Homo sapiens: one gene and its partner. The protein of the gene in region 1 purifies or fractionates together with the protein of each later gene. This does not show direct contact. Each region holds a gene or a part of one and is shown on either strand. Other genes may lie near its edges.

Region 1 (3,899 bases):
GGTTCACGCCATTCTCCTGCCTCAGCCTCCCGAGTAGCTGGGACTACAGGGGCCCGCCACCGCGCCCGGCTAATTTTTAATATTTTTAATAGAGACGGGGTTTCCCCGTGGTCTCGTTCTCCTGACCTCGTGATCCGCCCGCCTCGGCCTCCCAAAGTGCTGGGATTACAGGCGTGAGCCACCGCGCCCGGCCTATTTATTTATTTTTAACTTTTTTTCCCCCCCGAGACGGAGACTCGCTGTCGCCCAGGCTGGAGTGCAGTGGCATGATCCTGGCTCACTGCAACCTCCACCTCCCGGGTTCAAGTGATTCTCCTGCCTCAGTCTCCCAAGTAACTGGGATTACAGGCACCCGCCACCAAGCCCGGCAAATTTTTGTATTTTTCATAGACACGGGGTTTCGCCATGTTGGCCAGGCTGGTCTCCAACTCCTGAGCTCAAGTGATCCTCCTGCCTCGGCCTCCCAAAGAGCTGGAATTACAGGCGTGAGCCACCGCACCCGGCCTCAAGTAAATTTTTGTGTGGACAAACATTTTTATTTCTCTTGGGCGCGCAGACACCTAGGAGTGGAGTTGATGGGTTTTATGGAGACTCCAGGGCTCGTGGTTTGAGGAACCGCCGGGCTTTTTCCACAGCAGCTGCGCGGTTGTTCCCACCAGCCGTCTAGGACGGTTCCTTGCCTGGCTTGGACTAGTTGGTTTCGCTGCTGGGCCTTTTCCCCAGTGGCCCCAATAGGGGCTGCAGAGTGAGGCAGGCACAGTCCTCACCGCCGCCTCCGGGGGCCCTGTTGTCCCGGGCGAGCTCCGGGGACCTCTCTCCTTCCCCGCGCCCCTCAAATACCAAGCTGACCCTGGTCCCGGGATCTAGGCTCGCCTTCAGGGGCTGCTCTCGACTGGCCGTGCCCATGGGCTGGTCGCCTCTCTGTGCCTCAGTTTCCTCTCCTGCAAAACAGAGGTAACATTTTTTACCTCCAAAAACAGAGGACTCAAGGAAGGCTAGAAATGAAACAAGAGAAGAGAACAAAATCAAAATCCCCAACGAGAAAACAAAACCCTGTTTTTCTGGTGTGTGTGTGCGTGTGTATTTTTTCTTTCCCTTTTCCTCCTTTCTGTTTTTTGCTTGTTTTCTTCCGTCTCTCTTTTCATTCCTTTATTTCCTTTCTGCTAAAAGTGACACCCTCCGGGATTATACAGATTTTAGAGCCAAAGGCAGGTGGGAGCCGCACCTGGCGCGCGTGGCGAGGGGAAGGAACTGCACGGGCGCAGGGACACAGTTCCCCCACTTTGCAGGGGCGTTTTCTGCTGGTGGGTGCAGCCCAGCTCCGCCCCGCCCCGCCCCGCCCCGGCCCCTACGTCCCGCGCTCTGCGTTCCGCTCTCCCGCCAGTCTAAGGCGCGGACACAAAGGTCCTGTCCGGGCCACTCCCGCCCCGCCCGCCCCCACCGTCCCGGGCTCCCTCCCGCAGCCCCATTGGCCGGGAGCTCCTGGGGGCGGGGATCGGCGCCCCACCCCCCCTCGGGCCACGCCCCCTCCCCAGCTCCGCGCTCTCAGTCGGAGCGAAGCGGCTGGCGGAGCAGAACGGATTGCAGGGTAGGGAGCTCTTCTCGGGGACCCCAGGATAGGCGCCCCTGGCCCGCGGCCCCGGGAGCCGCAGGGGTGGGGCCTCGGCCTCCTCTGCCTCCATCGTCCCCCATCCTGCAGGGTCTTCTAGCTCGGCAGAGGAGGGCTCCGGGCTGGGTTTCTCGGGGCCTGTTTGGGGAACGCGGGTTGCTCCTCCCCAGGGGAAGGGGTGGGTGTGGCAACAGCGGCAAGGATTCTAGGCGGACGTCGGGTAGTACTTCCCGCCTGGCCACCTGTTCTCTGCGTGCAGGGGAAGCTCTTCCCGCCCTCCCCGCTGCTTTTGCCTTTGGGCGGGAGCCCTGGACGGGGGACTCGCCGGGCGGTGGGGCGAGGCGCGGGGGGCGTCGCACGCGGGAAGCAGAGCCACCCCCCGCCGGGCCTGGCCGCGCCAGCTGTGGCTCGAGGTTGGGACGGCGGCCAGGCCCGGCGGGGGAGGTGGGGAGCCGTCCTGGCGCCGCGCGATTAGCCGCATCTGGGGGAGGAGGAGCCGCCGGGCGCGCTGGGCCCGGGTGTTTGCGCCCGGATGGGGGTGGGGGTGCCTTAGGCGCTGGAGAAAAACTTCACCCGCGCCCACAGGCCCCCTTTCCGCAGGCTGCGCTGGCGGTTCAGGTTTGCAGGCCGGAAGTGAAATGTTCTTTTTTGATTTTTAAAAAGGAAGCCTCCGGCCCTATGGTTTTCTGGGGTTGGAGTGGATGTGTGTGCTGGGGGAGGCGGAGACGTCCCGCTCCAGGCAGGGCCTTGGGTCTTAATAGGTGGGGAAATCTCTGCCAAATAGGAGGCCTCTCGGAGCCTCAGTTTCCCCATCTGCAGACTGGGCTCTGACTTCTTCTGGCATGAGAGGGTGTGTGAGAGTAAAAGGAGGCAGCTAGCCCCGTGCCGGGAGACACGTAAGCTACTGTTTTTTAACTTGCTGTTTTGATATTTCTCAGTCTCTCTGTGCCCAGTCTTGCTTGCCCCTGTCATTTGCTGCCACTCTGAAGCCAGAGGGAACTTAGAAAAACAATCCGCTTAGATCTACCCCACGCTGAAAATCGTCCACCGAAGTCCCATTGTCGTCTAAGTCCCCAACTTCTCAGCAGGGCTTCCTGTTATCTTCCGCCACTACCTTCTCCAGCCTCTCTCTGCCTCTGTTCTCCCTCCCTTCGGGCCTTTGGCCCTCCTCTGGGCTCGGGGTCCTCCTTGGAGACCCCACCGCCCTCTGCACTCCCTGGGTGGCCTCGGTGATGACCGTGAGTTCTCGATGCTGGTCCCTTCAGGGCAAGAAAGAGGCGCAGAGCCCGGCTGGGAGTAGATGTTTTCAATGAGCTGAGCTAGGCCTGGCGTGGGGCCATGGGGTGGGGTTGAGGGTGGTTGACGGTGGGTCCCCTAGGTAGGGGATCGGTCTTTGTTCCACCGAGTGGCAAAGCCAGCGCATTTGGTTTGTGTTCCATCAGCAGGGGCAGGAATGGGAGGGAAGGTGATTTCAGATGGGCCCGTGCCTGACACTTCCACCATCAGCCGCACTATTGTGGACTGAGCCCGCCGTGCGCTTGGCATTTTCGCGGCACCATCTGCACAGCGTCCGAGCCCTGCGACGCAGCACCGCTCCTGTCCCCTTTGACAGATGAGGAAACTCGGGTGGGGCGGTGAAATCGCCTGGCAGGGGTCACAGAGGGAGTGGGGACCAGTCAGGGCTCAATCTCAGGTCTGAGCCAAAGCCCCCCGAGAATGGAGGGAAGGATGGAGGGATTGAGTGGGGGAGGCGTGTAGAGTAGGGTTCTTGTTGAGAAGGAGGGCTTGGGCTTCCCGCAGGAGGGGCAGTCCAGGCTGAGAACTGGGGCGGGCGCAGGGTCCCAGGTGGGTGGTGGCGGTGGGGTGACCGTCTCCCTGCTGGGTGGGGTCGCCCGTCCGGTCGAGGCCGTCCAGGGGTGCTAATGGGGGCACAGGCAATGGCAATGTTGGAGGCCCCCTTGGGTTCCCGGTACACTCCTCGGGTTTCCGGCCTCTTCCCAGCACTCAGGGGCTCCTGAGGGCGGAAGAGCTATTCCCAGCTTGGCGGGGCCTGGGAGGGGGCTCTGGGCAGACGTAGGCGCCGGGCTGCACCTTCCCTGCCCGCCTGTTTGCACTTCTCTGTGACTGTTGGCTTCAGGTCCTTAGCCAGCGGAGGGCTGACTCCGGCCTGGCTGCCCCCTCCCCTTTGCCTCCCGTCCCTCCCCCTGGACACTCCAACCCCCATCCCTTCGTGTCCCTCCCCCTCCTCTCTCTCTGCTCCTCCCTCGCCAGACCCCCCGCTCTCCCCGGA
Region 2 (3,899 bases), on another chromosome or scaffold:
GAGCCGTAGGATTAGGGCTCTGGGTGAGGCCAGAGTCCCTAAAGTTGTACCCATATCTGCGTGTTTGTATTTCCTGTTTGTAATTCCTCCTGTTTGTACTTTTTGTCTCTTATACGGTACACTTAAAGTTTCTCCACAAGGTGTTTCAGCATAAAGTACTCAAAAACTAAAAACGTTTAATTTCATTATTAGGTTAAGTGTGTAAAAAATGCCCCATCAAGGTTCTTGTACAAACTCCCATTATTCTCCCAGACTCCGAAGTGGCACTCCAGAATAATTTTACGTGGGTTAGCATCTTTTATAAAACGGGCAGGCAGAGCGGCTTATGAAATTAACCTTGGAAACCACGCGGCCACTCTTTCGGGAAATGCCTCCTATTTATGTTTACATGGGCCAGCAAGAGAATCCAAGGTTGGAAAGGTCATTCCTCACTACAGAGGCTCATCGCAATCACAGTTCCGTCTCCAAATTCGAGTTTTGGGTGTGAAGAGTTTATAAAGTCCAGCCGCTGTCCTCGCAGTGTTTGGGGTTAGCGGAGGGAGAGCTTGTTTGCGACCAAACTTGCCGCGCGGGGCGGCCGCTTGCAGGAACACTGCGGCCTTGTGCGCTCGGCGGTCTGAGCTCCTGCGAGGCCGAGAACGACGCCTAGCGCCCAGCGGCCTCCGCGAACAAAAAGCGACCGGTCGGAAGGTGCTGGCCCAGCCGCCCCTGGCGCTCGAGCCCGAATCCGGCCACAGACCATGAAGGGACGCCCGGCACCACGTGCGCGGGGATCCGCGGACGGGACGCTCCCCGGCACCTCCGGGGCTGGGCCGGCACCGCACGGTCCCACCCAGACAGTAGCTGCCCCGGGCCCCCAAAACAGCCGCTCCTAGCTCCTCCCTCCCAGCTCTGCGGTGGCCCAAGCCGCCCTCCGCGCGCTTGACCCAGAACAGTACGGAGTTCTGCACGAGCCGGGGGTGGGGCCTGTCTCAGCGCGCGGCGGTGGGGCGGGGCTTGGACACGGGCCCGGCTCAACTTGAGGGAGGCGGGGCTCGAGGCTCAGAGGAGTTGGAGCCCGCTCTGCGCGCTGCGGGACGGGGCACGGCGGAGCAGGGTTGGGTCCGCCTCGAGCGGGGAGGGTGATGCTGCACCACAGGGGCGGGGCTGGAGGTAAAGCGCGGAGCGGAGAGGGACCAGGCTCGGCACTGATTTGTGTTCAGGGCTAGCCCAGAGGGGCGGGGCCAGGTACGGGGCGCAGCCGGGAGCGGGAGGGGCGGTGCAGGACGGGGCCGGGCACGGCGCGGGAAGAGGCCAGGAGCAGCAACGGGTGCGGGGCGGGGCCGGGAGCGTCAAGGGGCGGGGAAGAGGGGGGAATGGGCGGGGCCGAGCTCTGCGAGGGGCGAGGTGGGGAATGCAGAGCGGGGCCGGACGCGGGAGCAGGGAGCTGGGCGGGGAGCGGGGCGGGGAGCTGGGCTGGGCTCGGCACGGGGCGGGGCGGAGGGTGGGGAGCGGAAAGCAGGACGCACGGCTCCCGCGGCCCGCTGGCTGCCCTTCCCGCCAGCGCAGGTGTGGGACGGGCGGCGGACTAGGCACAGAGCTGCGGGAGCAGGCACAGGGAGTGTGGAGCCTGGCGGCGGGACGGCGGGATCCGGTGGGAGCCGGAGTCCCGCCGAGGGGGGCTGGAGGTGGAGGGGCCCGGCGAGGCCGCGATGAAGCCGAGCGGCGAGGACCAGGCGGCGCTGGCGGCCGGCCCCTGGGAGGAGTGCTTCCAGGCGGCCGTGCAGCTGGCGCTGCGGGCAGGACAGGTGAGCGCCACGGCTGGGCTCGGAAGTCCGGGCGGAGCAGAAGCGCGTGGGCCTTGGGAGCCGCCTGGAGTGGCGGGGTCCTGGCGCGCAGCCGGCGGGCGCCCAGGGTCCGCACCCGAGGGCGCGGGGCGCGGAGCGGTGAAAGGAGCCTTTGTGCTGGTGTCCTGGACACACCTCCCGCGCCCTTCTCCAACTCCCGGAGCCCTGGCGGCGAGCCCCTCTGCTTTGGAGTTCAGCGGCTAACGTGACCTTTGCGTTTGAGTGAGTGGTCAGAATGTAGAAATCTCTCCAGGGGTAGCGTACGGGGCTGTTGATTTTTAAGGACCTATGAACGGATTCAGCTCGCGGTAGGAAGCCCGGGGCTAAGCCCCAGCCGCGTGGGGATCTGGCTGGGCTGCCGTTTGATTGTCCTGGCTGCAGCATCCTCAACCCAAACTTACTCTGACCCACACCCTGAAAGTGGCTCAGCTCCGCGACGGCCACGGACTCAGAGTTCAGGAGGAACTTGTTACACTGCCCGGAAGGATGAAAACCGAGCCGCAGAGCTACCGAAAACCAGCGAGCAGAGTTTAAAATGGAGTGCAGTTCCTCTCTTCTCTTTTTCATTTTTGTGATTGTTCCTTCCACTTTCCTCAGTACCTTTAGCAGTGCCTGACACACCGACGGTAGTGGTAGGCAAGCGAGTGTTGGTTCTCCCAGGACTGTAAGATGGCTTACTCCATGTTTGTCTCTTAGGATGTGATTGTGGGCCGGGCGCAGTGGCTCACGCCTGTAATCCCAGCACTTTGGGAGGCCGAGGCGGGTGGACCACTTGAGGTCAGGAGTTCGAGACCAGCCTGACCAACATGGTGAAACCCCGTCTCTACTGAAAATACAAAATTAGCTGGGCATGGTGGCGCGTGCCTTAGTTCCAGCTATTTGGGAGGCTGAGGCAGGAGAATCACTTGAACCTGGGAGGCGAAGGTTGCAGTGAGCTGAGATCGCGCCATTGCACACCAGCCTGGGCAACAAGAACAAAACTCCGTCTCAAAAAAAAAAAAAAAAAGTGATTGTTTTCGGGGATTTTAGAGACAGGAGGTGTGCTGAGAGCAGATTGGCCTTTTATATTCAAACATTTGTTTTCTTTTTTGAGGTCTGACAGTCCGAAAATGCTCTACCAGTTTCCCTAGATGTTGAAATCGGACTGTTATCAATCTTAAATTTGAAGTGAGTCGTCATAAAGTGGATAGTGCTTTACCTTGGTGCAAATCCTCTAATCCTGTTTAAAAATTAATCTGCAATACTAAGTAGACTCATTTTTTGTTGAAGGGCCTTCCTTCCCTTTGTAGTTTGAAGAACCCAAGCCTCAGACCGTAAAGAATGAATGAATTTAAGAGTGTTGCGAAACTCCACCCTTTGACCTTTCCCTCCTGTAGGAAAAGGAGGACCCTAAACCTTCCTGCAAGGCAGATGAAGCTTGTAGCTTCAGTGCAAGCGTTCTTCCTGGAAAGCAGAGCTGCTGTGTGCATGGAACACGGGTTCTCCTTCCATCCTTCCCTGCCTCCCAGCTTTCCTTCCAGAGCAAGCATCAGCCAGATATTTAGGAACTTTTAGGTTCTACTGTAAAACTTTTCTTCCTTGAGGCAGTGAAAAGCCAGCTTAGGATTCAGACATTGCTGTGTAAACCCTGGCGAGCTAAGTTAGGAGTTTCTGTGGTTTTCAAATTTAGATCCTTGAAGAAACAGAAGATTTTAAAATTTTATGTTATTATTTAACAAATGTGCATAAAGAGCTTGCAATAGAGCAGGAACAGTTCTAAGGCTCCTATGACTTTTAACTTAAGAGATATTTTATGTTTTTGCAACTTGCCAGCAACAAAAAAAGCTTTTTTTAAACGCTGGAGAGGGTTGCAATAAAGATGCTGCCATTAGGAGTCCGGTCAGGAAGCCCGGGCCGCCCGGGGCTCCCCCTCAGGCATTATGCTGATGCTTCCTGCCTGCCGGGCAGTGCTGAGGGAATGGCCTGAAGGTCTGCTGCTGGGACAAACAGAAGCCACACGAGGTCATCGGAACCTGTGTAAAGAGGGACAGATTGTCTTCTAATGCAATCGGGGGCTGACTGGAGAAAACATAT

The links.
Region 2: the proteins of CARHSP1 (region 1) and IMPA2 fractionate together in Homo sapiens (co-fractionation; one large-scale study listed by BioGRID). This does not show direct contact.

Annotation. Positions count from the first base shown.
Region 1 is NC_000016.10:8,866,655-8,870,553, reverse strand, and holds the start of CARHSP1 (calcium-regulated heat-stable protein 1), read left to right. Parts: upstream 1-1,547; 5' UTR 1,548-1,588; intron 1,589-1,834; exon of another isoform or gene 1,835-2,022; intron 2,023-2,152; exon of another isoform or gene 2,153-2,505; intron 2,506-3,125; exon of another isoform or gene 3,126-3,302; intron 3,303-3,899. UniProt on the Homo sapiens protein: Binds mRNA and regulates the stability of target mRNA. Binds single-stranded DNA (in vitro).
Region 2 is NC_000018.10:11,979,979-11,983,877, forward strand, and holds the start of IMPA2 (inositol monophosphatase 2), read left to right. Parts: upstream 1-1,528; 5' UTR 1,529-1,691; coding exon 1,692-1,787; intron 1,788-3,899. UniProt on the Homo sapiens protein: Phosphatase that can use myo-inositol monophosphates, myo-inositol 1,4-diphosphate, scyllo-inositol-1,4-diphosphate, glucose-1-phosphate, beta-glycerophosphate and 2'-AMP as substrates in vitro.